7 linked regions of the Homo sapiens genome follow. The protein of the gene in region 2 interacts with the protein of the main gene of each other region in a pairwise test. Each region holds a gene or a part of one and is shown on either strand. Other genes may lie near its edges. The genes, in order: ANKS1A, DOK3, STAT3, SHC3, PPIH, RIN3 and DOK5.

Region 1 (3,500 bases), on a different chromosome or scaffold from region 2:
CTCTGGTTAAAGCTAGTAAAAGATTTCTGAGCAAATGAGACCATGCCTAGGTCAGTATGTCCTCCCTTTTTAGATGTGGACATAGTGAAGGGTAGGTTACCTCTGCTCCCAACCCTCTCTCCCCTAAAGACCCTGGATTATTTAATGAGAGCTGTGGAATCATAGCTTCAGATTTGGCCTTTGTATTAGCGGCCATATTCTACCCCTATTTGTACTGCCAACTGTAACTTGCCTGAAGTAAAGCTGGCAGAAATAGGAGCTTACAGTTGCAGTGGAATAATTGTTCCAGACCACACATGTGTTTGTGTATTCACCTGTTTGTGTTCCCCCATCCCGTATTCCACAAAGGCTTTGTGTTTATTCTTAAGCTAAAAAATGCCCTCTTCTCTTACCCATCCCTTTTCCTCTACACAGCTTGGGCTTAGGTTTTAACTTCTTAAAGCCCTTCCTGATGACCCTAATACACACAGATCTCTCAAGCTTCCATGTCTTTGGAGCACGTCATCTGTAGTGTACTTTGCTTGCCTAGCTTTCACAGTTGATCGCTTTGGCCTGTCAGTATAATGTTTACATATAGCAACCCTCACCGATTGATGCTATACCTGAGAATCAGAAAGTCAGCAAAGAAGACTTCTACTAGAAAAACATGTTGTTACAAACTTTGTGTTCTTCTAGCCTTCCTTATTTACTGGATATTTATTCAGGAACAGTATAGCATTATACTGTCCACTTTTTCTTAGCATTAAGCATGTTATAGCATTAAGACCACTTGTTTTTGTGTCAGACTTCCTGGATTCACATTCCACTGCCACCACTGACTAGCTGCTTGACATTATTCAAGTTAACCACTTTGATACTCAATTTCTGCATCTGTAAAATGGGGATAATACTATCTGCCTTATAGGTATCATCTTAGATAATGTGTGTACGGGACTTACCATAATTCCTGGCATATTCTAAGTCCTCAGTCTTAGTCATCCTCAGTTCAGCACATACGGTTTTGCTGTGTTGCACCTGTTCTGTGCAAAGTACCATGCCAGACACATTATTTATTTTTATTTTTGTAGAGATCGTGTCCCACTATGTTGCCCAGGCTAGTCTCAAACTCCTGGGCTCAAACGATCTTCCTGCCTCAGCCTCCCAAAGTGCTGGGATTATAGGTGTGAGCCACAGTGCCCTGCCTGACACATTTTAAATGGTGTTTTTTCATGCTTGGGGATCTGTTTTCCAAGCATGGCAGACTAGAAAGAGTAAATAAGGGAGAGGAATCATTCATATACCCAATGTTTACCCATGATATACTTTGTGCCAGGCCAAGTGATTGCTAGATGCACTGCAAAATATGTCTGAGACCTGGGACATTGTACGTGGTCTGTCAGAATTAGCCCCTCTCTTCATACATGTTCTGTTCCCTTACAGAGTTTATAGTAGTATGATACGTCTGTGTAACAGGCCAACAAAAAGGAGACAGAGAAAGCACACAAATTTAGCATAATTTATCCTACCTCCCGGCTGTTTGAAGCTATTAACATAGGTGTATATAGCCCTATATACCTATGTAAGCCCCAAGCATCAGTTTACTGTATCTTTGTGCTATGATTTATGTTTATTATGACTGTTAGCCATCAAATAAAGATTAAATTATGTTCAATATAGCTTGTTAGTGAAAGAAGAAAAAAAATATAGTTTTCTATCCAAAATGGTTTAAATATAATTTTTTTACTTAAAAGGATAAGCAATAGATTATCTAGAAAGCACAGTTATCCAGAATGTCTAGGCTTACAGAGGCTCTGGATTGCATGGATTATACTTTATATAATACTAACTCATTTTCTGATTGTTTAATGGATGCATGCCTTCGGTCTATACCTTGGGAGCTTGGGATAGGCATTCTATCAAACTTCTTAACTTACAGTATTTTTTAGTTCTGGGCACGTAGCGGGCACTCAGATTCTCATGTAACAAGACAGTTTGCTATGTTTAGAGTTATAGTGAAATACTGATTTCCAAGAAAGAAACTCCTGTATAAGAATATTGTAAGATTTGGTTAAAAGTAAATTCTATCAACTAAAAGGCCAAAAAGATCTGAGAAAAGGAAATGTTAAAACCAATCATGGCCAGGCACAGTGGCTCACCTCTGTAATACCAACACTTTGGGAGGCTGAGGCAGCTGGATCACTTGAGCCCAGGAGTTTGAAACCAGCCTGGGCAACATGCTGAAATCCCATCTCTACGAAAAATACAAACATTAGCCAGGCGTGATGGTGTGCACCTGTAGTCCCAGCTACTCGGGAGGCTGATGTGGGAGGATTGCTTGAGTCTGGGAGGTTGAGGCTGCAGTGAGCCAAGATTGTTCCACTGCATTTCAGCCTGGGTGACAGAGCTAGACCACGTCCTCACACCACCACCCCCCAAAAAAAGAAGAAAAAAGAAAACCAGCCACAATAGCTTCAAACTGTAAATTGAGTTATGAACTAAATACTGATGTATATGAATGGAAAAGTAAAGTGAAATGTACTTCTTAGGGTTCAGAAGCACAGAGAAACTAAACCGAAGATCACAGTTGAGGAGATTATGTTATGGTTTAGGAATATTTTATGCTTAATTTCTCAAGCATGAGAAGGGTGAATAAGAAAAGAGGAAGCCAAGGAGACTTGCTGGAGAATCTGAAAATTTATAGATAGTAGCAATGAATGTGGCTTTAAACTAATTTTTATGCTGCCATTTCATTGGGGGAATAAAAGAAAAAGAAAACTATTCCAAAACAGATATGAATTTCCCAAGATGTGAAAATGTTCTGAAATAAGGAATGAAGCATGAAAAATTTTGAAAAATGGACCTCATTTGGAGGATAATAACAGATTCTCCCAAATGTCAGAAAATATGGCAAGTAATTCATTGTTGTAAAGAAAGCTTCCTAATATTTATTTAAGGACTTTGGTTTTTTTTTTTTTTTAATTAAAAAAAAAAATTTAAGAGACAGGAGTCTTGCTAATGTTGTCCAGGCTGACCTTAAACTCCTGGGCTCAATTGATCCTCCTGCCTCATCCTCCTGAGCTATTGGGACTGCAGGCACATGCCACCATGCCAGGCTAGACTTCTTCCTCTTGTTAGTGTTATTATTTTTTAAACAGTGATTAGCATAACCATTCTATTGAAATGGTCCTTTATTCATTCCCAGAATGGATCTGAACCTTGGAGATTATAATGGCGTGACAGCCTTTTCTCATGCTGACCTTTTTACTTTTGCCCACTACTGTGCCAGATTTCTTTTGAAAGTGCCTATTTTGAGCAAAATGATTTTAACATCTTAAGGAAGAGGGCAACACTGACCATGTAAGGATTGTAGAATGGAAGGGCCTGGAAACAGATCTTGTGGATTTGAATTTGTCTGATCTAAGTTCCTGCTCTTCTAAGAGAATGCAAAAACAAGATAAAATGCAACTATCCACTAGCATAGCAGTTTTCTGGGTCTTCCACTAAACTATCTTAATTAATTA
Region 2 (3,850 bases):
TGTGCCCAGGGCGTGTTCTCCTTTGAGGCCGGCCGTCGCTGCCACTCGGGTGAGGGCCTCTTTGCCTTCAGCACCCCCTGTGCCCCTGACCTGTGCAGGGCTGTGGCCGGGGCCATCGCCCGCCAGCGGGAGCGGCTGCCAGAGCTGACCAGGCCCCAGCCCTGCCCCCTGCCACGGGCCACCTCTCTGCCCTCCCTGGACACCCCCGGAGAGCTTCGGGAGATGCCACCAGGACCTGAGCCACCCACGTCCAGGAAAATGCACCTGGCCGAGCCCGGACCCCAGAGCCTGCCGCTACTGCTAGGCCCGGAGCCCAACGATCTGGCGTCCGGGCTCTACGCTTCAGTGTGCAAGCGTGCCAGTGGGCCCCCAGGCAATGAGCACCTCTATGAGAACCTGTGTGTGCTGGAGGCCAGCCCCACGCTGCACGGTGGGGAACCTGAGCCGCACGAGGGCCCCGGCAGCCGCAGCCCCACAACCAGTCCCATCTACCACAACGGCCAGGACTTGAGCTGGCCCGGCCCGGCCAACGACAGTACCCTGGAGGCCCAGTACCGGCGGCTGCTGGAGCTGGATCAGGTGGAGGGCACAGGCCGCCCTGACCCTCAGGCAGGTTTCAAGGCCAAGCTGGTGACCCTGCTGAGTCGTGAGCGGAGGAAGGGCCCAGCCCCTTGTGACCGGCCCTGAACGCCCAGCAGAGTGGTGGCCAGAGGGGAGAGGTGCTCCCCCTGGGACAGGAGGGTGGGCTGGTGGGCAAACATTGGGCCCATGCAGACACACGCCTGTGTCCACCCTGGCCTGCAGGAACAAGGCAGGCCGCCTGTGGAGGACCTCAGCCCTGCCCTGCCCTCCTCATGAATAGTGTGCAGACTCACAGATAATAAAGCTCAGAGCAGCTCCCGGCAGGGGCACTCACGGCACACGCCCCTGCCCACGTTCATTGCGGCCAACACAAGCACCCTGTGCCGGTTCCAGGGGCACAGGTGACCTGGGCCTTACCTGCCACCCGTGGGCTCAAACCCACTGCAGCAGACAGACGGGATGGAAATCATTAGGACTCCATGTTGCTCTGCACGGCCGAGTGACACGAAGAGGCAGGCGGAGGGAGCTGTGAGGCTTACTTGTCAGACTCAGGAAGGAGCAACATGAGGGCCCAACTGGAGACCCGGAGGCCCGAGCTGGGAGGAGGCAGTGGGGGCGGGGTGCAGGTGGAAGGGATTTCAGAGACACCCTCGTCCAAAACACTTGTTCCCTGCTGAAACTCCAACAATTTGCAGATACTTCTGGGAACCCCAGGCGTCAGTCTCCTCATCTGTAAAGGAGAGAGAACCGATGACGTATCAGGCATAATCCTTGATGAGAGTTTGCTGCGTGCCTACTCAGTGCCAGGCGCTGGGGGACACAGCCGTGTTCAGGACAGCCTTGGTCCTGTTCTCCGGGAGCCGACATTCCAGGGGGAGAGAAGTTTCCTGAAGACTTCCATGCTGCGTTCCCTCCTCTGCTCCTGCTCCTGGCGCCATCCTAGGAGCCAGCCACGCACGCAAGCGTCATGCCTCCAGGGCTCTGACTGCCCAGCCCCTCACCGCAACTCCACCTCAGCTGCACACACCCTTGGCACATCCTGAACCTCATTTTCATGACGGACACACAATTTTTGCTCTCTCCTGTCCAAGCCTCATCCTCTGGCCGCCACCTCCTTCCAGCTCACTTCCTTTAGTGCGGCCAGTACCGCCCCTGCCTAGGCATGTCGACCTGCAGGGACCCTTTTCTGGCTCTTCGAGGCCTCTGCCCACCATCCCCTCTTTGTTCTCCATAGTCCCTTCCCCCTGTTCTCTCTCGTTTCATCTTACTGGTCTGGCAAAGTCCCCGGCCTTGGGCGAGCCCAGACCTCCTCAGTGCCTGCACACAGCTGCCCACAGCCAGAGAAATCCATTTAAGCAGACTGCCTGCATCCTTCTTAACAGTGCAAGGCAGGCACTCCCTGCCACAAGAGACCCTGTTCCCTAGTAGGGCAGCTTTTCTCCTCCCCAGAACCTCCTGTCTATCCCCACCCAATGTCTCCTCACAGGCATATTGGGGAAACAGGTCGGGCTCTCCCACCGTATCTGCAAGTGTACTGGCATCCATCTGTCTTCTTCCTACCCCTACAGTAGAAACAGTGTCTGTCCCCAGCTGTGCTCTGATCCCGGCTCCTTTCACCTCAGAGCTTGGAAAATTGAGCTGTCCCCACTCTCTCCTGCGCCCATTCATCCTACCAGCAGCTTTTCCAGCCACACGCAAACATGCTCTGTAATTTCACATTTTAAACCTTCCCTTGACCTCACATTCCTCTTCGGCCACCTCTGTTTCTCTGTTCCTCTTCACAGCAAAAACTGTTCAAAAGAGTTGTTGATTACTTTCATTTCCACTTTCTCACCCCCATTCTCCCCTCAATTAACTCTCCTTCATCCCCATGATGCCATTATGTGGCTTTTATTAGAGTCACCAACCTTATTCTCCAAAACAAAAGCAACAAGGACTTTGACTTCTCAGCAGCACTCGGCTCTGGTTCTTGAAACACCCCCGTTACTTGCTATTCCTCCTACCTCATAACAATCTCCTTCCCAGCCTCTACTGCTGCCTTCTCTGAGTTCTTCCCAGGGTCCTAGGCTCAGATGTAGTGTAGCTCAACCCTGCTACACAAAGAATCTCCTGAAAGCCTGTAAAAATGTCCATGCATGTTCTGTGAGTGATCTACCAAGAAAATAAAAAATTTTAAAAATCAAATGCCCATGCCTGGGCCCACACGCAGGGGCTCTGATTTCATCAGTCTGGTAGGTGGGTTCTGGGCATCCACGCTCACTGGATTTCCGGATGATTGTAGTATGCAGCCTAGGCTGGGAACCACTGGCCTCAGCAAGCCAGTCATTCTCCAGGTGTCACAGACCCTCTAGGTGCTAATGACCCCGAAGGTCTGTCTTCAGTGCACACCTCCCCCTGAGCTCCAGATTTAGGAATCCCACTGCACACGAGACATCTGGATGTGGAAAAGACATCTCCAGATCCCATGGGTGAAAGGGGGTTGGGGGAATGGAGACTCTGGTGTTCTTCCAGGATGTGTGTGGACACAGAATGCAAAGCCTGGAGGGATGCTAGAGCCATAGGGAGGAAGATTTTGGCTCACTTATTCATGCAAGCACTTCCTGATGGGTAAGGTCTTAGAGCAAGCTGAGGCCAAGAGGCGGGCAGTCGAGGTGCTGCTGCAGGCACCCCCACTCCCTACAGTGGCAAGCCCAAGCCCAGCCCTTGGCAGCTCAAATCCCAGGACACGCTGAAGGTCACCCAGAGAGTCAGGGGCATGGCTAGAACCAGAACCCAGGACTCTGGGGACCCAGCATGGCATCCTTTCCTTCATTACAAATCTGAGCTGCTTTGTTTCCTAGGGATTTCTGTGATATTCCAAGGGGACTGTGGGAAAGAAAGTCCTTGGAAACCACCAGGACGCTAGAGGCCTGGCCTGGAGCCTCAGGAGTCTCGGCCACCAGAGGGCGCTGGGTCCTTGTCCAGGTCCAGTTGCTACGCAGGGGCTGCCTGTGCTGGGAGGCTCCCCAGGGGACACAGACCAGAGCCTTGCACCAGCCCAAGGAATGGGAGCCTGGGGTCCTCTCTGCTGGAGGACTGCCAGGACCCCCAGGCTGCCGCCTCTTCCTTTGCTCATTTGCTGTTTCACTTTGTCAATCCTTCCTTTCTTCGTGTGTTCATTCACATCCACTGTGTGCTGGCCCTGGGGAAATGTTAGATAAGACACATTAGCTGTGTGTCTTCATTGTCCTAACAAAGAACACACCCTGGAAAGAGCACCGCAGAGAGT
Region 3 (4,638 bases), on a different chromosome or scaffold from region 2:
GTAATTAGCATCTTTCTTAATTTATTGGCAGGATAACGTCATTAGCAGAATCTCAACTTCAGACCCGTCAACAAATTAAGAAACTGGAGGAGTTGCAGCAAAAAGTTTCCTACAAAGGGGACCCCATTGTACAGCACCGGCCGATGCTGGAGGAGAGAATCGTGGAGCTGTTTAGAAACTTAATGAAAAGGTAATTTAGCATCCTTGTCCCTTTCCCTCATCTAAAAAATACCTAAAGACTCACGTGGTAGAGTGAGAGGCGGGCTGACTTCTGGTCATGGCCGTGGCGCGTGAGCCCATCTTCTCTTTCCTCAGTGCCTTTGTGGTGGAGCGGCAGCCCTGCATGCCCATGCATCCTGACCGGCCCCTCGTCATCAAGACCGGCGTCCAGTTCACTACTAAAGTCAGGTAGGCCATGCCACTTCCATTTCCAGTAGAGATTTTACTGAGGGACACTGTTAGGGTGAGGGTAGAGTTGGTGGCCAGGGTCATTCTTTCCAGGTGTGGTGTCACAGGCAGTACACTGTTGCGGGGTTGAAATTTGTTGCCATACTATCTGCTTGCTCTCTGATTCTGATGTCAAAAGCAAAAGAGCAGTCATCTTTTTGAAGGTACCTGGGCATATTCCTATGATTGTAGACCTGGAGTCTCAGGCCACAGCTTCTCCTTCTGCCCAAGGGACAAAATAATGTCATCTATTTTCTGTTCTTTGAGGCTACTCTTCCCTGTGGATTTTAAGGGAAAGAGTAAGGCTTAGTGATGGGGAAGCTGAGAGGCCCCAGGGCAGGTGGGTGGTGGGCCTGTAGGGTGAGGTGTTACTTTCACACTCAAGTCAGAACAGGTGTGCTGGGGTTTTGACCTTCTGCAGCAAAATTTCCCTCCTCAGAAACTTAGTATGGTGTTCGGTTTCAGGATTAATAGAACAAAATGCCAGCTGCACAGCATGTGTTCCTGTAATATTTTTCATTATATGGCTTTGATTATCCTTTTGTGAATCTCTCACAACTTTAAGTTGTTAGTTCTTAGATGTTTTCTCAGTACCTTTGGCTTGAAGGAGTGATACTCATCTTTTGTTTTTGTTTGAGACAGGGTCTCACTCTCACCCAGGCTGGTGTGCAGTGGCATGATCTCAGCTCACTGCAACCTCCATCTCCCAGGTTCAAGTGATTCTTGTGCCTCAGCCTCCTGAGTAACTGGGAATAGAGGTGCGTGCCACCACACCCGGCTAATTTTTTTTTTTTTGAGACAGAGTCTCGCTCTTTCGGCCAGGCCAGAGTGCGTGTTGCAATCTCAACTCACTGCAACCTCCACCTCCCAGGTTCAAGCGATTCTCCTGCCTTAGCCTCCCTGAGTAGCTGGACCGGCACACTCCACCATGCCCGGCTAATTTTTGTATTTTTAGTAGAGACAGGGTTTCTCCATGTTGGCCAGGCTGGTCTCAAAACTCCTGACCTCAGTAATCCACCCACCCCGGCCTCCAAAAGTGCTGGGATTACAGATGTGAGCCACCACGCTCGGCCTTTTTTTTTTTTTTTTTTTTTTTGAGATGGAGTCTTTCTCTATCACCCAGGCTAGAGTGCTGAGGTGTGATCTCGGATCACTGCAGCCTCTGCCTCCTGGGTTCAAGTGATTCTCCTGCCTCAGCCTCCCAAGTAGCTGGGATTACAGGTACCTGCCACCATGCCCGGCTGATTTTTGTATTTTTAGTAGAGACGGGGTTTCACCATCTTGGCCAGGCTGGTCTCGAACTCCTGACCTTGTGATCCACCTGCCTTGGCCTCCCAAAGTGCTGGGATTACAGGTGTGAGTCACCGCACCCAGCCCTATTTTAATTTTTTTAAAGAGAGAGATAGGGGCCAGGCACGGTGGCTCTCGCCTGTAATCCCAGCACTTTGGGAGGCCAAGGTGGGTGGATCACCTGAGGTCGGGAGTTCGAGACCATCCTGACCAACATGGAGAAACTCTGTCTCTACTAAAAATACAAAATTAGCTGAGCGTGGTGGCGCGCGCCTGTAATCCCAGCTACTTGAGAGGCTGAGGCAGGAGAATCACTTGAACCCAGGAGGCGGAGGTTGCGGTGAACGGAGATTGCGCCATTGCACTCCAGCCTGGGTAACGAGAGAAACTGTCTCAAAAAAAAAAAAAGAGAAAGAGAGATAGGATCTCGCTCTGTCATCTAGGCTAGAGTGCAGTGGCATGATCATAGATCACTGTAGCCTTGAACTCCTGGGCACAAGTGATCCTCTTGCCTCAGCCTCCCGAGTAACTGCGACTACAGGTACATGCTACCACACCCCGCTAATTTTTAAATTTTTTATAGATGTGGGCTCTCACTTTGTTGCCCAGACTGTTATGGAACTCCTGGGCTCAAGGGATCCTCCCAGCTTGGCCTCCCACAGTGCTGAGATTATAGATGTGAGCCTGTAATTATAGACAGCTTGGCCTATTTACCTGTTGGAAATGAAGAATTATGAATTTTACATTTCTTCAAGAAAAGGTTATGGGAGAGTTACTGACTTTTTTTCCTTGGATTTTTTCTTTTTAAATAGGTTGCTGGTCAAATTCCCTGAGTTGAATTATCAGCTTAAAATTAAAGTGTGCATTGACAAGTAAGTACTCCTATCTTAGCTCTGTTTTTCAAATGAGGAATAGAAAAATGAGAACTTTGACAGACATCATTTGAACTAGAGACTCTGTCTTTATTCAGAGATCTTCATTTTGTGGACAAAAGTTTTCAAAAGCCTTGGGGTGCATTGTCATTTACGTGTCTGAACAAAGCCACAAAGCTGGGGGTACAGATTTGATTTGTGGTTGCTATTGTGACAACCAGTCCCTCTTTTCCTTGTTTAGTTTTTTACTTGTACATGTCATTCATGCATATTATATATAAGACTGAGATCATGTGTTAATTAACGACTGGGATACGTTCTGCAAAATGTATCATTAGGCAATTTTGTTGTGCAAATGTTGTAGAGTATATAGTCCTTACACAAACCTGGGTGGCAGAACCTACTGCACACCTACGCTATGTGGCAGAGCCTACTGGTCGTAGGCTGTAAACCTGTACAGTATGTTACTGTGCTGAATACCGTAGGCAATTGTAACACATCTCAATGAAGTAGGAATTTTTCAGCTCCATGATAATCTTATGGGACCACCATCATATATGCATTTTGTTGTTGACCGAAACGTCGTTATATATTCTTTCCATACATAGCATGTGGAAAGAATAGATCTCTTTTTTTTAATTGTTCCACACTTTACCATATAATGGAATACGCAAAATTTCACAATACCTTTCAGGATGTAAAATACATATACCCTTTGACGACATTAGAAAAGAGAAAATGTGGGCCGGGCGCGGTGGCTCATGCCTGTAATCCCAGCACTTTGGGAGGCCGAGGCGGGCGGATCACGAGGTCAGGAGATCGAGACCATCCTGGGTAACACGGTGAAACCCCGTCTCTACTAAAAATACAAAAAAACTAGCTGGGCGTGGTGGCGGGCACCTGTAGTCCCAGCTACTCAGGAGGCTGAGGCAGGAGAATGGCATGAACCTGGGAGGTGGAGTTTGCAGTGAGCCAAGATCACACCACTGCACTCCAGCCTGGGCGACAGAGACTCCATCTCAAAAAAAAAAAAAAAGAAAAGAAAAGAGAAAATGTGGCTGGGCGCGGTGGCTCACGCCTGTAATCTCAGCACTTTGGGAGGCTGAGGTGGGCAGATCACCTGAGGTCGAGAGTTCGAAACCAGCCCGACCAACATGGAGAAACCTTGTCTCTACTAAAAATACAAAATTAGCCAGGTGTGTTGGCGCATGCCCGTAATCCCAGCTACACGGGAGGCTGAGGCAGGAGAATCACTTGAACTCAGGAGGTGGAGGTTGTGGTGAGCCGAGATCACACCATTGCACTCCAGCCTGGGCAACAAGAGCGAAACTATCTCAAAAAAAAAAAAAGAAAAAAGAAAAGATAAAATGCATTCTTATTTTTAGTTGATGTAATTATGTGGAAATTTCATGAGGATGCACTGGAAAATAATGAAATAAGGGAGTTGACGAAGGTGGTAGGTTTAATAAGTACATATGCAATATGAAACATAGGTTCCCCTTCCTATGGGGAGGCAACCAACTGTGCCTGCTACGCAGAGGTGTTATGTTGCGCTGATCAACTGTAACTGAATAGTTTAAAGAAATGCCCAGGAGCACAGAGGTTTTTTCATGACAGTAAATAACAGGTGGTCAAAGTAGGCTTTTTGAAGAAACACAGAGCCTATTTTATTAACAACAGTCTGTGTTCTTACAGAGACTCTGGGGACGTTGCAGCTCTCAGAGGGTAAGTTCAGCCTAGAGGCTTCCTTTTGTTCCGTTTAACCTAACTTCATCCTCCGGCTACTTGGTCACCTACATAGTTGATTGTTCCCCTGTGATTCAGATCCCGGAAATTTAACATTCTGGGCACAAACACAAAAGTGATGAACATGGAAGAATCCAACAACGGCAGCCTCTCTGCAGAATTCAAACACTTGGTATGTGGGAGGAGCTCCCCTTCACAAAGGGCCTCTGGCTGCCGGAGAGGGCTAGGGAGAGCCTCACAGGACACCTGCCTTTTTCTTTTCTTACAGACCCTGAGGGAGCAG
Region 4 (4,638 bases), on a different chromosome or scaffold from region 2:
AGAGTCTGGATGAGCCATGGACGGAAGAGGAGGGAGATGGCTCAGACCACCCATACTACAACAGCATCCCAAGCAAGATGCCTCCTCCAGGGGGCTTTCTTGATACTAGACTGAAACCCAGACCCCATGCTCCTGACACAGCCCAGGTAAGTCTTATAGTTTTTTTCTTATATAAGGAATGGAGGCTAACTCTACTTTATTTCCTTTTGTTTTCTTTGGTTTTATTTCAGGCTGATGTTCTGTTTCATTTTTGACACAGTAAATCATGAGCTTTCTCTCACTGGATTTCATGAGGCATGCAGATGAAGAGAGGCTTTGGGTTAACATCATAAAGCATTGGCCAAATGCTTTGGAACTGTGTGGTGATTCCTGGGATATGAGTCTGGGGGTGTCCTCTGTACCCTCAGACATATTCCATCATACTGTGATCTCAGTGAGGGAAAGAGAGAATTTAAGATTTTAAAAAGGCTTGGGAGGCATTGGGTTCTCTGAAAAGGAGTGAATATAGACGCTTAAAATGATGAGAATTTTATGAGTTTTCTATTTTATTCATTCCCTTGTTTTATGTCCAACTCAAAATTCTAGTAAGGCAATTGCTTTCTAGAGTTATGATATTTCTGTTTTGTTATAGGAAATTTTTTAACGTTACTACCTTATGTGAATGATAATGACACCACTAAAAATGGCAAAATAACGTTGAGCTCAGGGATCTGACACTGAGAGGGAATTTCCTGATTTTTTGAAGGAAATTTCCTGGTTTACAGAGTGGACTTGACCAAGTGTGAACGATCATGGGCGTATGTGTTATGTGGGAAGTGTGTTCTGACACATAGATACTCTGTAATTGAAATTTATTTTAGGACATACATATGGAAGAGCTTGATTTACAGTCACACTTCGGGAGGGGTGGGGGGGGTAATGAAAACAAGCGGGGGGGCATGTGTAGTTTTGATGGAGATGCAGCCTTTTCCTCACACCCACACAAACTTATTTCCCAAATCTTAATGCCAACCATGAGGCATGAAGGGAAAATTGGGTGTAACAGAGGATGCGAACCACCTTAAGGATCAACTCGCCGACTGTCTTGTGGCTTTCAAAAGTGGTGAAATGAGAAGAAAATAATTTTTTCATTCTGTGTATTTACATGTGTCTATAGTTTGCAGGAAAAGAGCAGACTTATTACCAGGGAAGACACTTAGGAGACACTTTTGGCGAAGACTGGCAGCAAACACCTTTAAGGCAAGGTGAGAGGCAAGGTGAGATGGGTGAGAAACACAAAAGACACTTTTCAAAAGTAACATGCTCACCACTGGGTCGCCTATTTTCTGTGGACTGACAGAGTGACCCCTGGATATATGTGCTGTGTGTGTTGCTATAGAATCCTGACTAGACTATAGAAATAGAAGCAACGGTGTGGTCAGGCGCGGTGGCACACGCCTGTAATCCCAGCACTTTGGGAAGCTGAGGCGGGACAATCACCTGAGGTCAGAAGTTCGAGACCAGCCTAACATGGTGAAACCCCAACTCTACTAAATAAAAAAATTTGCCGGGTGTGGTGGCGGGTGCCTGTAATCCCAGCTACTCAGGAGGCTGAGGCAGGAGAATCACTTGATCCCAGGAGGTGGAGGTTGCAGTGAGCCAAGATGATGCCATTGCGCTCCAGCCTGGGCAACAACAGCAAAACCCCATCTCAAAAAAAAAAAAAAAAAAGCAACAGTGTTGCAGACATCTCCTGGCACCAATCAGATAGTGCCTCCCTGCAGCTCCAGGACCATTCACACCCCGTCTGCAGTCACTGCCTCATGCCCTTGAGACTGTACACCTCCATGCTGGGAGAGCTTCCATGCCCAGGGGTGCTGAGAAGTTGACATCTCAGGCATACTTCACCCCAGTTTCCTATGGGAACTGGTGAGGCAACTCTAAGGTGGAGGTTGAGCCCCCGTGACTCCTACAACAAATTGTTGCCTTTCCTTCCTTGTCTCGTTCTCCTTCCCTTTACTCAGGGTCAGCTTCAGGGGGGATGTGAAGCCCCCTACTCTAAGCTGGGGATTGAGGCAGAGGTGGCACCAGGGATATACGTCTCTCACAGGCCCTGGATACTCTCAGAGAACACTTCTGCATCTTACAATCATAATATGCACCTACATCACACATTAAAACTAATGTCGATATAACTGTCTATAAGTCAGATATCTGCAAATAATTCAAATATATTTAGATACAGCCATCATAATTTAGATACAACTATCTAAGAAGTAACTGCTAATTGCTCACATAAGTCTTTATTCTCTAGACAGTTATATATACACATACAAATATGTATGAATGTATTCATATCTCAATCTAATCCTTTAAGAATGTCTTTTAATTTTAACCTTTTTCCCTTCTCAAAAACATTTATAACTCTTTCACTAGCTCTGGGATCCTGGCTACTAAGTCTATAAGATCTGAAGGGGATGGATGCAACTGATGCTTCTATGTATCTAAATTTAAACATTATTGGTTTAATGTTGAGGCTTATTCCTTCATTATAGCTATTTATGCCAGGAAGCAAATGACAATACATTTTTAAAATGTCCTCTGTGTAAGAGAATTTCGTCTCGCCTGCCCCAGATGCAGGAAGACCCACAGTGCTGGCCCAGTCAATAAAACATAAGGCCTGGCAGAAGCCACCACATGTTCTGCCTCAGAATAGGCTGGAAATAGCAAATCAGAGTCATAACTTTGCCAGAGGGACATTTTCATTATGGGCTATTTATCCTTGTTCTACACACATTTAAAATGCATTTCCATAACATGTGTGTGCATAGACATATAATAACTGCTAAAGAATAAAGGAGACACATTATTTCCCTTAGATATTTACTTTATTGTAAAATATATCAGGTTTATTTTAAAATAGGCCTTGTTTTTGATATATTCAAGTTATTCCAGCCAGATCGAGAACAGATGATGTCGCAGAATGAACTCCTGGCCTGGAACTTGAGACTCAGAGCTCTCAATAAATTTCCAGCTCTTCTTTGAAAACAATAAATAGGCAGGGCATGGTGGCTCACGCCTGTAATTCCAGCACTTTGGGAAGCCGAGGCGGGTGGATCATCTGAGGTCAGGAGTTCGATGCCAGCCTGGCCAACATGGTGAAACCTCGTCTCTACTAAAAATACAAAAAATTAGCTGTGCATGGTGGTGGGCACCTGTAATCCTAGCTACTCGGGAGGCTGAGGCAGGAGAATTGCTTGAACCTGGGAGGTGGAGGTTGCAGTGAGCCGAGATCATGCCACTTGCATTCCAGCCTGGGTGACAGAATGAGACCCTGCCTCAAAAAAAAAAAAAAAAATAAATAAATATCTTTTCTCACATAACAAATTAGAATGTCACTTATTAATTTGCTGGCAGATACTGTCCCTAATGGAAGTGAACTCCAGGTATCACGATGGCACGTGTCCTCCTGCCCCGGCTCAGCACCTGTTGTCATCTATGGTGGGAAAGGGCAGTCAGGAAGATTATGCATTTGGGCTCTTGATCTTCTCCTTTTAAAATTTTTTAATGAAATTCTTTTCTAAAGGCTGATTCGTTTGCAATGTACACAAAGGTGTAAACTGCAAATAGCTGTCACTAAGCAAGGATGCGTAATCTGACTAGACTCTTCAATGTAGAAAGCATGTTGAGAAATAGGAGAGTAGAAACACAGTCCATGATGTTGCAGGTGGTGCTCCCCAGCGAGGGAATGTTAGCACGACACTTCATTCTCACACCTACAGCCTGGGAGACAGTGGTGTGCTGGCAAATGTCCAGCCACAGGCTCTTGGGAACGCTTTTTAAAAAGCCCTGAACCAACTCCTGCCAGCTGGATTGAGCTGGCTTCAACACACCACCGCCCATAGGGTATGAAAGACACCCTCTTTCCAGAAATGTGAATACCACAGGGTGTTCTTGCGAACATGTTTACGTAAGAAGATTGGAGACAGGGCGCACACACAAAAAGACTCCGAGAAGGATCTGAACAGGCGTTCTCCGGCAACTAGGTCTGGGTGTCACTTTCACCCAGGGTCTGGGTGACAGAACAGCCCGGGCCCAGCCTCAGCACACCCACTGGCTAGCTGTGAAGTCCTGTCAAGGCACTAGGTCTTTCACACTAGGTCTCGGTGACAGAACAGCCTTGGCCTAGCCTCAGCACACCCATTGGCTAGCTGTGAAGTCACATCGAGGCAGCATCACTGCCTCAGCAGAGGGGGCTCTTCACTTGCACACCCACCCTGGGCTTCCTTCACAGACCCAGGGGCAGTAACTGCAGCCCTATTTTATAAGGAAGGAGTCTCTCTCAGTTCCTTAGGAGGTACAGAGCTTCTATTGTATTGCTTGAATGAAGTTAATTTATAAAGCATTTGCTTATATTTAAAAAGAAAACAAGAGCAATTAATATAAGGCTTGTGGTCCTTCTGCTCAGTTATTTGATCTTGGAGCATTTGTCAAGGAGAGGAGGTCAGGCATGTTCTGCCTGCCAGGCTCCTGCGGTCTTGGGGCAGCAAGGGCCAAAATTTTTGCTAAGGCCATCACAGTGGAGCCATCAAGGTGTCCACCCTGACATTGGCTGGCAGACCCCATGCTGATATGAAGGACTGGAAAACATCCTAGCTG
Region 5 (4,638 bases), on a different chromosome or scaffold from region 2:
GACTACAGGCATGCACCACCACACCTGGCTAATTTTTTTTTTTTTTGGAAAGACGGGATCTCACCAGGTTGCCCAGGCTGGTCTCGAACTCCTGAGCTCAAGCTATCTGCCCTCCTTGGCCTCCCAAAGTGCTGGGATTACAGGAGTGAGCCACCTCCTGCCGGGCTGTTTTCATTTTTTAATACAAGGTGGTTTTACATGAACTAAGAAGGAAAAGTTTTCAAGACATATTTTTTAGAACATGAAAAATATAGTATGATTTCATTTGGGAAAAAGAAAACCTCCCAAAATTAGATGGGCAAGGCAAAGGCCCTGATGGACATACATCAAACTAATAAGGAAGTGACCTTTGGAAAGGGGAGTGGAATTGCAGGTGGGTATTGTCAAGAGGGGCTTTCACTTTATCTGTTTGGTGTGAAAGTTTTCACAATGAGAGTGTATTATGTTACTTGTGTAAACCAAATGAAATGAAATATGGGAACCTTGATTGGATCACCTTTTTTTAAGCTACAAAAGTTACTTTTGGGACAATTGGGGAGGTTTGAAAATGTACTATATATTAGATAATATTGTGGTTACGTAGGATGTTCTTATTTTTAGGAGTTCCTTGCTGAAATACTTAGGGGTAAAGTGTCAAGAAGTCTGCAACTTTCAAATGGGAAAGAGAAGAAGAAAGGGTAAAGGAAGGAAGATGGGAAGAAAGGAAGGAAAGGATGGAGGGAGGGAAGAGGAGCAGGAGGGAGGAGGAGAGGCAATGGAAATGGGTGAGGAGGCAAGAAGGGAAAGAAAAAAACAAATGTCAAGGCAAAGCAATAAAACAAGAATGTTAATCATTGGTGAATCTAAGTGAAGATATATTGGTGTTCAAGGTATTATCTTCTAACTTTTTTGCAGGTTTGAAAATAAAAAAAAAAGAAAAACAAAACATCACTACCCCTCACCTGGCTGGAAGTGATGGATTTCTCCCTTGTACTCTTCTCATACTTGGCAATGTCACTCATATTACTAGTGATCACCTCTGGGAATGTCTTACTTTCCATGAGCTCCTGAAAGGAGACATCTTTCAATTCTTTGTCCCCCTCTCTGCAGCTAGCATGCTGCCCAGCGCAGAGCAGGCAGTGGTAATTACGGGTAAGAAATGAGTCCATGTAGGCTGGAAGATGCAAGGCATTCACCTATGAGGCCAGCGAATATGAAGTCGAGGCCTGGAATTGCAGTATCAGTTCTGATGAGAGGCATGACAGGTGTGTCTCCTGGCTGCCTGGCCTGGTCCCAGCAGAGAGTTACTCAGGCCTGGAGCCAGGTCTTTCTAGGGGGACTACTGAATGGAACTGTAGTCTGAGAGTGCTGTTACAAACTGCCTGAGTAGTTTTCACATTGATACTTTGTACATTACAAAGTGATAGAAAAGTAAAGTGCTCCTACAACCCTTTCTCTTTTTATTTTTACAGTGACTCTGAGAGATAGGTATTACAGTATTTCCATTTGACAGATGAGGAAATGTGCTCAGAGAAGGAAAGTGACTACTCCAAGGCCATACACGGAGGAACTGGGCTCAATCTCATGTCTTCAAGACTAAAGTTCTTTCCACTAGACCATGCTGCCTTCTCTGAGGTCTGATTCCTAACCTAATAGGAGAAAGACACACTTACCTGATTCAGTCTTTGTCTGGACTACATCTCCCCACACTGCGAGATCACCACAGGTAGCTTGGGCTTATTGTTGGGGCCTGTGGGAACATTCTAGGAAAAAAAGCACAATGGAGATTCATCCACTCAGGCACTTCCTCGTTCCCTTATCAAACTTTTACTGATGCCTGCCAGCCCTGTGCTAAGGACTCAGCACTCAGAAACAGTCCATGTCCTGGCAGACAGGTAAAGCATATAATACCTATCAAAGAGAAAATGCAAAACACTTAGAAAATATCAAACTTATGATTATATAAGAAAAAGTTATAAGAGAGAATTGGATAAGGGTTAGATAGGCAACTAAATTGGGGCTTAAAGAGGTCAGGGAAGGATTCACAAAAGAGGGGTATTTGAACTGTGCCTAGAAGGATGAATGGGATTCCATCAGGAGGGAAGGAAAGAAGAGCATTCCGGCTAGAGGAAACTGTGTGAGCAAAGGCTCAGGGGCAGGAAAGAGCAAGCAGCAGGGACATGCATGGCAGATTTAGAGAAGAGCTAGTAGCCTGATGTGACTGGAACATGGAAGAGGCAATGGCAGAAGAAGGGGCCATGGAGAGGTAGACAGGGACTAATCATGAAGGACCTTGAACGCAATGCTGAGGAGTAGAATTTTATCAAGTAGGCAACAGGATCATCAGAGGCCAAACCTCAGTGTTGGCCAGACAGGCTAACTTAGGTGGTTCTCTTCCCTTTTCCTGGGGCAATGAAGACAGCCTAACAAACTGGAGCTCATTCCCCCTTCTCTAGCTCCTGCACGCTAGTCAGACAGTACCAGACCACAATGGCAGAGAAACAGAAAAATCAAAGCAGTACTTACCTCAATCTTTCTCATCACTAGAAGTCCATCGATGATTTTTCCTGTAGGAAGAGCATGAGCTGGACTTTATTCTTGTTTACATAGCATTTTCCAGCTTCCAAAGCCCATTCTTAGCTATTTTCTCATTAAACCCTCATACTAACTTTAGGAAATTAAGATGCGGTAGAGGTGAAATGACTTGCTCAAGGTCATAGGTAATAAGTAGAGTTAGGGCTCAAACTTATACCTGAGTGACTCCAAAGTCTCACCGTATCATGCTGCCTCTATGGCATTTCTTTGGTGCTAGCAACTGGGTTTTCTCCCTAAGTGGTTCCATACTATATCAAATGGTCCTTTTGTCCTTCCCTCTAGTTCTCTAGCCACACATGTTCCCCACCTCCCCACCATTTCTGTTTTCTCTATTACCACCTAAGCAGTTACACAGGTTGAGCTTTCTTGGTAAGAGTTTGAGAACTAACTCCTCTGGAGGTTCCATCCAGGGTGAATGGGGCCTGGACCATGAGACAGGAGTAGGACTTACCAAACACCACATGCTTCCCATCCAGCCAATCGCACTTAGAGCAGGTGATAAAGAACTGACAGCCATTTGTACTTGGACCACTGTTCGCCTGATGGAAACCAAATATACCTGCAGTAAGTTTCCCCGGCCATGTTAGCTGAAGGGCAAGATTTCCAAAAGAGCTTGTAACACTGATTCCTCTATGGTTTTTTTCAGTAAATCTAACTTAGCACCTATTATGAGCCAGGGCCTAAGCTAGGATCCAAGGATACAGAGATGAACAGGATATGGCTCACTGCAGCCTCAAACTCCTGGGCTCAAGCAATCCTCCCCACCTCAGCCTCCCTAGTAGATGGGACTACAGGTGTGTGTCACCACACCTGGCTAATTTTTTTTTTCTTTTTTAAGTAGAGACTAAGTCTCACTATGTTGCCCAGATTGTTCAAACTCCTGACCTCAACCTCAAGCAATCCTCTTGCTTCGGCCTCCCCAAAGTGCTGGGATTACAGGTGTGAGCCACCACACCCAGCTATGAATATGTCTTGAAAGCACAACTGTTTACATTCTGAGCAGTAGGGCTGAATGCCCAGACACAAATCCTGGTTCAGATTTTAGTTCCCCAGCCTGCTAGCCTGCTAGTGGGCCTTACCTACTGGTTTTCTTTTCTTTCTTTTCTTTGTTTTAAGATGGAGTTTCGCTCTTGTTGCCCAGGCTGGAGTGCAGTGGGGCAATCTCAGCTCACTGCAACTTCCCCGTCCTGGGTTCAAGCGATTCTCCTGCCTCAGCCTCCCGAGTAGATGGGATTACAGGCACCCACCACCACACCTGGCTAATTTTTTGTATTTTTAGTAGAGATGGGGTTTCACCATGTTGGCCAGGCTGGTCTCGAACTGCTGACCTCAGGTTATCCACCTGCCTCAGCCTCCCAAAGTGCTGGGATTACAGGCGTGAGCCAGCATACCTACTGGTTTTCTCAGTCAAACCAGACTAAGAAAGGAGGTGGTAAAGGTGAGTCCTGGGCCAAGCAAGAGAAGGAAAGCATTTGCTTCCATCCCAAGAGACAGCACTGGGCCTCAAGAGGGGCCCAGGAACCAGCTGGCTATAACCCAAAACCTTGATTGGACCTCACTTACCATGGAAAGCAGGCCTGGAGCTGAGTGTCTAAGTTTAAAATTTTCATCTGCAAATGGCCCCCGGTAAATACTGGCGACTCCAGTACCATCTCCCTGAGCAGAGAGAAGGGAAGTATTAGTGACTTGGAGTGTTGGGTCCCTGGAAACCGGAGGAAGAACACTGTCGCACCTAAAGCATGACATCTTTAAAGTCTACTCTTACTCTTGTTGGTCATCTTGGAAGCTGCACCTATTTGACCCCACCCTGCAATCAGATCAAGCCTTATATAAGGTACCTACAGCCCACAAAGACTGGCTGGAGCATTTTATAGACTGGATAAAAGAGGTCACAGCTGGGCCTCTAGAACGATCAATTAAGATGCAGACAAAGTAGGGAACAGCAACAAGGTGATCACATACTCAATCCTTGCCATTCCTGAAGACTCTCATGCCTTCAGTCACATAAAAGTACCCACTTAAGTGACTACCACCCCATTCCCCTAAACTATCTAAGAGGGTGGG
Region 6 (3,500 bases), on a different chromosome or scaffold from region 2:
GGTCCCTGATCTGTGATCTTCACTGAAGCTGCAAGTGTGAAAAGCTTGAAATGCCACAGGGCACCCGCATTTTAACCCAGGAGATACAGAAATCAAAACTGGAAACCTACCAGGAATTGATCTCAGCTGGAAGCAGAGAGAGGCATGATATTTGAAGGAGGACACCCAGACCCTTCACCATCCCCTTAGGCCTCCCTGGAGCTCCATTTTGGAGACAGGAGTCTGAGGTGGTCTGTGGTGCCTCCCAGTCCCTTGCCAGAGCAGAGACGGAAAGAATGGGTGACAGATGGCCACAAACTCTGTCTCTGTAACCCCCTGGAAGATTCCACCTGTCATGGCAAGACATGGCAAGCTGTGTCATCTAGGCAGTGATGAGTGAGCACCATTGGGTGGGCAGCTCGGAGGAGGGGAGTGCCTGAGCAAAGGTTCGGGAGGTGGGAAAGTGTGGTGGAGGGGCTTGTGGGGCAGGGAGTGCACCCTTCAAAACCCAGAGGTACATGACACACATTGCTTTACAAAGCGACTGTTATCAGATAACAGGGGTTGAGGAAACGGAAGACAAATTTTGTCTGGGGAGAGAATTACAGAAGAGGGGCAAAAGTATAAAGGGGGCTGCCCACAGAACCCCATCCTTGGGGCCTGGGTCACCTAGGGGATTGGGGGCATCTGTGTGTTCAGAAAGAGCCTTAACATGGGGTAAATGACACCCAAGGCCCCTTAACTTCCTGTTGGCCCCCAGCTATCTGATCCTATTAGGGAGTAACCTTTAGAAGAGAGTGGGGGGCCATGCGTTATCATCTTGTTATTGGGTAATTGATTGGTGCTGCTCTGATGGCCAACTCCAGAATGTCCTGTTGATACAACTATTGCCCCGAACCAGCATTTATTCTGAGAACCAGGAAGTCGAATTTCTCCTGCCCACCAGGAGTGTCTGAAACATGGATGTTTTCCCCCAAGATTGGAGCCAAAGATGAAAATCACAACTTTAATGACTTCCAAACTGGATCTCCCCTCCGTCCTACCCCACAGTGGGCCCTTCTGGTGGTTTGGTTGTTGCCAATCAAGCTAGAGGGACTCTCAGGCCAGGCAGGGAAAGTGGTGTGTCCCCCAACAGCTCCCTAATTGCCCTCAGGTGACATGCTGTCCTATTTAAAAGGTCCCTCAAGAAAGTCCTGCCCTCTGTACCCCAGCCCAGCCCTGCTGGAAGCCAGTGTACAGCTTCACATCTTCTGTCCTCTCCAACGTGCAGAGCTTGTCTGTGGTCTTGTACCTTTGCCCATGAGGTTCTTTCTGCCCTTTTTACAGGGCTCACCTCTTCCATGTAGCCTTCTATCCATGCCAGCTCACAGAGATTCCTCCTTTTTGAATATTCATAGCCTTTTTCACATGAACCGCTTGTTTGCCTAGCAATTTGAAAGAAGCCAAAACCTCTTTAATATCATGACTTCCTACTTCAGTTACAAACTTCCAAAGAAAGGGGTCAGGTCTTTTAGTTCCATATCCTTGTGTCCTACATGCACTTGGCACTCCATAAATGCTTGAGGCCAATGATACGCTGATTGAAGGCTGCACAGCCTTTTCTTTTGTGTCCCTGGAGCCCCTGAATTTCTGGAGGTGTTTACAAGGTGGCCTAGATCACAGGGCGGGGCTAAGTAGGGGGAGACCCAGGGCTTGGGGGGCTAGGAGCCCAACTCCATTCCGCAGCAGCTGGTGACCCCCACCACAAGGCTACCACACTCCTCTCCAAGTCTGGAAAGCAGAGGCCACCCAGGCAATTGAGTAGGGACCCTGCTTGGCCCCAACTCCCCTAATTTTATCCTCCCCAGCTGTGCTCCTGATACTTGTCAGGGAGAAAGGATGGGGGAAGGAGAGGCCAGCCCTGGATACTGTGTCTCAGCCGGAAGAATGGAGAATAGCTTGGTGTACAGACTTGGGGGAGCCCTGGGGCATCAGTGGGTCCCAAATGCGGGTCTCTGGACCACTGAGAAACTGGGAAAATAAGGGTGGCCTGTGTGTGTGTGTGTGTGTGTGTGTGTGTGTGTGTGTCAGCATCAGTGTCAGCCATGGCTGCCAACGTGTCTTTTCTTAGGCAGAACTGTCCTTTGCTGGTTTGGAAGAGGCGTGGGTGTTTGCATGTTGTAGGTCATCAGTAGGGCTAGAGAATCTGGGGTCCTGTCTCCTCTAGTATTTTAGGATTTTATTCTAGGAAGCTGCTCCCTTCCCTCTGGACCTCATTTTCCCATCTGAGAAAAGAGCTCCATGTTCTCAAGGTCCCTGCTCGCTCTGACAGTCGGCTCCCTGAGTTACCAGCTAGCAGGCAACGGAAGCTGGTGTCCTAGAGTAATAGCATTCAGGGGATCAAAGTGCCCATTGGAGCTGAAGTGGCCCATGGAACAGTCTAGAACATGCAGGCACTTTCACAAGAAACAAAGACCCATCCAGGAGACTTTTGGCTCATTACCCTGACCAAGCTACCTGGAAGGAAATGGTTTTTCTTTTTCTTTTTGTTATTGCTGTGGTTTTATTTTGAAAAACCTAGTCTTGAAAAAAGTACATTTGGTTTTGGGAGCCCACTTTGGGGCAGGACCCATGGCTCCTTGCCAAGTGGACAGTGAGCTGGGAAGGTTTCTCAGGCGGGGAGCCCTGGTGTGGCTGGAGTAGCCTCTCGAGGGTGGCTGGGCTGGTAAGGTGGAGCCTGCCTGGCCATCAGCTGTGGGAGCTGTGGAGGTGCTGAGGAGATCGCAGACAGCCGGGGATACGGGGCCTGGCTGTTTAGAGACCGTCTGTGAAGCCTGCCCCTGTCAGGGTTGGAGTCTGAGGGGCGGCCCTACCAACAGAGGATGAGACAGGTGTCCAGGCTGAGGGATGGCGCTCTCTGCCAGGCCTCGGTCTCCCTGCCCAGGGCTGCCCAGAGATAGCCAACGCGTCCCTGTGCAGGTGGGGGCGGCAGTGACGCTGTGTGCCTCCCTCCCCACGCACAGTGTAGTACAGCGAAGCCAGTCCGTCCCTCCTGCCAGCGTGGCCTTGATGGAGAAGAGAGGAGTGACGGGTACATGGGAGGCCTTCCCTCAGCCTGGCGTCCACAGGGCAGTGGGAAGGCATTACTATCTGTGTGGTGTCAGCGTTTATACAAGAGTCTGGAAGCCACCACTGTGTCCTCTCCTCTACTCTCCTGCCAGTAGGGCCTCTGTGCAGCCTTGGCATGTTTCCTCTCCACAGGGGTAGGGGTTGGAGGGACTGCCCCCAAAGCAGAAACAGTGCTGATAGTCAGAAGCTTTGAACATGGCTGCAGAACCCCCTGCCCCAATTTGACCTCAGTAATACCCAGGGGTGCCCCCACCTCAACCAGTACATGTTTAATGGAATGAACGAGCCTGCAATGAAATGTCGGTTCTCTTTTTAGCAGAAATGGCCTAGGCCGTGGTTGTGGTCAAGGCCTGTTGTCTGTAAGTGACGTGACGGCACACACTCAGGCCACATCCTATGGGGTAATGGTGCTT
Region 7 (4,638 bases), on a different chromosome or scaffold from region 2:
TTTATTCTTCTTATAAGAAAATCCCAGGCCAGGACGGTGGCTTATGCCTGTAATCCAAGCACTTCGGGAGGCCAACACAGGAGGATTGCTTGAGCCCAGGAATTTGAGAGCAGGCTGGGAAACACAGGGAGACCCCATCTCTCCAAAATGTTTCTGTTATAAAAACACATGCACATGTATGTTCATCAAAGCACTATTCACAATAACAAAGACATGGAATCAACCCAAATGCTCATCGATGATAGACTGGATAAAGAAAATGTAGTACATATATACCATGGAACACTATGCAGCCATAAAAAAGAATGAATCACGTCCTTTGCAGGGACATGGATGGAGCTGGAGGCCTAATTCCTTAGCAAACCAATATAGGAACAGAAAACTAAATACTGCATGTTCTCACTTATAAGTGGGAGTTAAATCATGAGAACATATGGATACATAGAAGGGAACAACACATATGGGGCCTATCTGAGGGTGGAGGATGGGGAAGGGAGAGGATCAGGAAAAATAAATAATGGATACTAAGCTTAATACCTGCATGATGAAACAATCTGTACAATAAGTCACCACGACACAAATTTACCTATGTAACAAACCTGTACATCCTGCACAGGTACCCATGAACTTAAAACAAAAGTTTTTTAAAAAAGAAAATAAGAATACCTATTCATCATTGGGTATATTGTACAAAAAATAAAAGCAAATTAAATGAAAAAAAAATTAGCCAGGCATAGTGGCACACACCTGTGGTCTCAGCTACTCCAGAGACTGAGGTGGGAGGATCACTTGAGCCTGGGAGGTCGAGGCTACAGTGAGCTATGATCTTGCCAATACACTCCAGCCTGGGGCGACAGAGTGGACCTTGTCTCAAAAGAAAACAACAATGACAAAAGAAAATCCCTATAGAAAATGAATAATTTTTTTTGGTAAGGTTGGTATATTTTTCCCTTTGGGTCTCAGAAATTATTTATGCATTAACGATAACCAGTGAAATCTAAGTATTGAAAATGTTTTATAAATAGACTTTTCTATGACTGTACCTCTCATATCATCTCCATTCATATTTCATATTGATGTGTAAGAGAATTCTGCATTGATCAAGACTCTTTGGATCTGTTTTGGGCAGCACTTATTCAATTATTAATATTTTAAAATCTTTTTTTATTTACCATTTACAGGAAATAGTAGTAGAAAAAAAGTATAGCTTTTTATGGTAATGTTTGAGGATCAAAACCTTAGTAAACTTTATTAGTATCTCATATCTATTTTAAACTTGAAAACATGTTATCTTATTAATTTTCCAGGTATAAAATGAACACTGTACATATCCTGCAAACGTTTAATTTATTCATATTGAAATCTAACGGAACTGCTAAGGATTTAGGTGATTACTTAAAAGACCTCGATATTTCTCCTAAGTGCTGTAGGAAACCATAGATACTTGGAGGCTGGTATGTTTGAGTCTCTGTGTGTGTATGAGATGTGTGTATATGGGGTGTGTGTGTATGTGATGTAATTGTGTTAATAGTTTATAAAGGGCTGGGCGTGGTGGCTCATGCCTGTAATCCCAGCACTTTGGGAGGCCAAGGCGGGCAGATCACGAGGTCAGGAGATCGAGACCATCCTGGCTAACACGGTGAAACCCCATCTCTACTAAAAATACAAAAAATTAGCCGGGCGTGGTAGTGGGCACCTGTGGTCCCAGCTACTCGGGAGGCTGAGGCAGGAGAATGCGTGAACCCGGGAGGCGGAGCTTGCAGTGAGCTGAGATCCTGCCACTGCACTCCAGCCTGGGTGACACAGCGAGACTCCATTTAAAAAAAAAAAGTTTATAAAGGTCACTTTGATCACATTGTGCACGGTAGGATAGAGGAGATAGGTATGGATGTGGGAGATATTGAACCAGTTCAAGTGAAACAATGGTGGATGAAAAGATATATGGGTGACAAAGTTGAGAACTATTTCAATGGTCTTTACCAACATGCTGACTTGGAAGATATAAGTGTTTTATCCCATGACTTTGATGACCCCTTTATGGTCCATCCATTTGCTTATTTCATCCAAGAACTCCACTGGTTAGATGATTATAATATTCACAACCCAGGCCACTCAATGTTATATCTCCAATATCGTAGGGACATAGAATATTTATTGATTTTGAATAGCATTATTTCTTATGCATTGGTCATGTTTTGCAGGGCTGGTGCAAACTTGAGATTGAATGGTCAGAAAGGAAAGTGTGGGAGTTGTATGCTTAGCATCTTACTTCTCAAACAGCTTGGTGTAGTATACAAAGTACTGATTCAGAATTTAGAGAGACCCTGAGTAATCTCTATTTTTTGCTAGCTGCTAACCTTGGACAAAGTTCTTAACTTTCCTTGTAAGTTGATCAGAGTAATAACTTTCTTGCAGGTTTGTTGTAGGTAAAGGCAGAAATGCATGTAGATGACCTGGAAGGATGCTGGGCTTCTCCTAAATAGTATCTTTGGTATTCTATTATGATTACTTTTGGAGCAGAACATAAGCTTGCAGGATAGTGTTAAATGCAAGGTAAAATTACTATTTTATATTTTGCTTGAAACTCAAATAAAGATAAATTTTTATACTTACCATCAAGATGCTCAGGATAATAAGATCATTCGTGTTCCACACCAAGCGTGAAGGTTTCATGTCTGCCTTGCTTTATTAGTGAAGATAAGTTTTTTCCTTGGCTATTTTTGGATGTGTTGAAACAAAGCAGTTTTATATCAACCAGTATAATTTTCCCCTTCTCTCACATCGAGAAGTGAGCAGGAGTTGTCTGTCTAAGCAAGTAGTTTTCACATATCCAACATGCATCTGCAAAAACTTAACAATATCCTCTAGAACACAGGGAATCTTTCTTGGACAAAGTTCTGCTCATGTTCAGCCTCTCTCTTAGAACTAGAACTGAGTGTTATTCCTGCTCAGTGGCTCCGTTTCACCCCACCAAAGCTGACAGTGGGGCATGTGTAACAGACTGAACTGGAAGTTGGAGGAAATGAAGTAAAATTACAGTTCTATCACATACTGGCTGTGGGAACGTGGATATGTCACTTAACTCACCGAGCTTTTTTTCATTGCCACCTGTAAATTGGGAACACATATATTACTTATCTCAAAAGATTGCTATGAAGATTAAATAAAGGCACATGTAAAGACACCTGGAATAGTGCCTGAATGTAGTAGGCAGTTGTATCCACCCAAACTAGTACTGAAAAGAAACTCATTGACTTCCATAAACTCAAAGTCTGAGGAGTAAAGATGGCTTCAGGCTTGGCTTGGCTCAGTGTCCAAATGATAATCCCAGGTTTTATGTGACAGTTCTGTTTCTTCTAAAATAGCTTCATTCTAGCTCCATATGGTGACTTTCAGAAGCTTTGAGATCTCCCCACACTATCTCAGTAAAAGAGAGATATATTACTACTCTCTGCTGTCATTATATATACTATGTGTCAAGCACTGCACTTTACACAAAGCTCACAGGGTACAAATGCAATGAGGTTGGTTCACTGAAGGCAGGAAGAGGGTACTGTTGCTATCAGAAGAGGAGTGGAGGTGAGGCTTTTAAAAACTAACAAAATATGTACAATATAGCATTTAATAATTGCTCAAAACAAATAAGGTCAAGAGGCTATTTGACTGTAATTGACATTTGCACTCACAATAGTGCCGATTTCCAGAGCAGTGGTTCTTAGCTAGAGGTGATTTTGCTCCTAAGGGACATTTGATAATGTCTGGAGACATTTTTGATTGTCACAACCTGGGCAGGGGGTGTTACTGGCATCTAGTGCATAAAAGGGCCAGAGATGCTGCTACAGGCACAGAATAGTCCTTGACAACAAAGGATTATCAGGTCTAATCATGTGGTTGAGAAACCCTACTCTAGCAGGTGTATGAGCCATTGAAAATCATCACTACCATTTACTGAGCCCTTACTATATGAAAGCCTCTGTACTAAGAGGCTCATTACCTCATTTGAGCTACTCATTATCATACAAACTAGGGGATACAGTTATTTCCCTCTTAAAATGAAACCTGGGCAATGGCAAGAGGTCCGAAGACACAAAGCTGATAAATTCAGGACTCACGCTCAGATCTTTTACTTCCAAACTCCATAGATTTTTAAGAAGGCTCACCTTCTACTGGAGGTTAGCCTAGTTCTTAGTTAACTTCTGCAGAGCTAAGGGAGAGAAAGCATCTTTTACTTCCAAACTCCATAGATTTCTAAGAAGGCTCACCTTCTACTGGAGGTTAGCCTGGTTCTTAGTTAACTTCTGCAGAGCTAAGGGAGAGAAAGCATGCTTACATAACCAAAGCTTGCTAAATCCATTTTGGATGATCTTGTGAGCATATTATCCTTTCCCACTGAAGCTGCCTCAATGTGAGGAAGGCATCTGTCAATAAGCCACAGACTTGCAAAGATGCTGGTGATGTAAATATGCCTCCTGAGCTGCGCACTGGGGTATAAATGTTCTTAGTTTGACTTGACTTTTTGGAACCCCCTGTATGTTCTCTTAGTTTGGAGTGTAGGCACATACATCTTTCCAGGGCAGCACTATGTGGATCATAGGTCATTAGGGTCTTCTGCACAGTGTTTTTCTCCTTCTCCTCCTG

Evidence for each region.
Region 1: the proteins of DOK3 (region 2) and ANKS1A interact in a two-hybrid assay, tested with the Homo sapiens proteins (2 studies listed by BioGRID and IntAct).
Region 3: the proteins of DOK3 (region 2) and STAT3 interact in a two-hybrid assay, tested with the Homo sapiens proteins (one large-scale study listed by BioGRID and IntAct).
Region 4: the proteins of DOK3 (region 2) and SHC3 interact in binary tests that used the Homo sapiens proteins (3 or more experiments, as listed by UniProt).
Region 5: the proteins of DOK3 (region 2) and PPIH interact in binary tests that used the Homo sapiens proteins (3 or more experiments, as listed by UniProt).
Region 6: the proteins of DOK3 (region 2) and RIN3 interact in a two-hybrid assay, tested with the Homo sapiens proteins (one large-scale study listed by BioGRID and IntAct).
Region 7: the proteins of DOK3 (region 2) and DOK5 interact in a two-hybrid assay, tested with the Homo sapiens proteins (one large-scale study listed by BioGRID and IntAct).

The regions. Positions count from the first base shown.
Region 1 is NC_000006.12:34,892,255-34,895,754, forward strand, and holds part of ANKS1A (ankyrin repeat and SAM domain-containing protein 1A), read left to right. Parts: intron 1-3,500. UniProt on the Homo sapiens protein: Regulator of different signaling pathways. Regulates EPHA8 receptor tyrosine kinase signaling to control cell migration and neurite retraction.
Region 2 is NC_000005.10:177,500,820-177,504,669, reverse strand, and holds the end of DOK3 (docking protein 3), read left to right. Parts: intron 1-9; coding exon 10-687; 3' UTR 688-1,277; coding exon of another isoform or gene 1,278-1,625; 3' UTR 1,626-2,766; downstream 2,767-3,850. UniProt on the Homo sapiens protein: DOK proteins are enzymatically inert adaptor or scaffolding proteins. They provide a docking platform for the assembly of multimolecular signaling complexes. DOK3 is a negative regulator of JNK signaling in B-cells through interaction with INPP5D/SHIP1.
Region 3 is NC_000017.11:42,329,443-42,334,080, reverse strand, and holds part of STAT3 (signal transducer and activator of transcription 3), read left to right. Parts: intron 1-31; coding exon 32-190; intron 191-315; coding exon 316-408; intron 409-2,549; coding exon 2,550-2,609; intron 2,610-4,289; coding exon of another isoform or gene 4,290-4,304; coding exon 4,305-4,334; intron 4,335-4,433; coding exon 4,434-4,527; intron 4,528-4,623; coding exon 4,624-4,638. UniProt on the Homo sapiens protein: Signal transducer and transcription activator that mediates cellular responses to interleukins, KITLG/SCF, LEP and other growth factors. Once activated, recruits coactivators, such as NCOA1 or MED1, to the promoter region of the target gene.
Region 4 is NC_000009.12:89,042,352-89,046,989, reverse strand, and holds part of SHC3 (SHC-transforming protein 3), read left to right. Parts: coding exon 1-146; intron 147-1,156; coding exon 1,157-1,244; intron 1,245-4,638. UniProt on the Homo sapiens protein: Signaling adapter that couples activated growth factor receptors to signaling pathway in neurons. Involved in the signal transduction pathways of neurotrophin-activated Trk receptors in cortical neurons.
Region 5 is NC_000001.11:42,664,455-42,669,092, reverse strand, and holds part of PPIH (peptidyl-prolyl cis-trans isomerase H), read right to left. Parts: intron 4,231-4,638; coding exon 4,138-4,230; intron 3,114-4,137; coding exon 3,026-3,113; intron 2,547-3,025; coding exon 2,506-2,546; intron 1,743-2,505; coding exon 1,674-1,742; 3' UTR 1,653-1,673; intron 1,047-1,652; exon of another isoform or gene 942-1,046; intron 1-941. UniProt on the Homo sapiens protein: PPIase that catalyzes the cis-trans isomerization of proline imidic peptide bonds in oligopeptides and may therefore assist protein folding. Participates in pre-mRNA splicing.
Region 6 is NC_000014.9:92,516,781-92,520,280, forward strand, and holds part of RIN3 (ras and Rab interactor 3), read left to right. Parts: intron 1-3,500. UniProt on the Homo sapiens protein: Ras effector protein that functions as a guanine nucleotide exchange (GEF) for RAB5B and RAB31, by exchanging bound GDP for free GTP. Required for normal RAB31 function.
Region 7 is NC_000020.11:54,593,520-54,598,157, forward strand, and holds part of DOK5 (docking protein 5), read left to right. Parts: intron 1-4,638.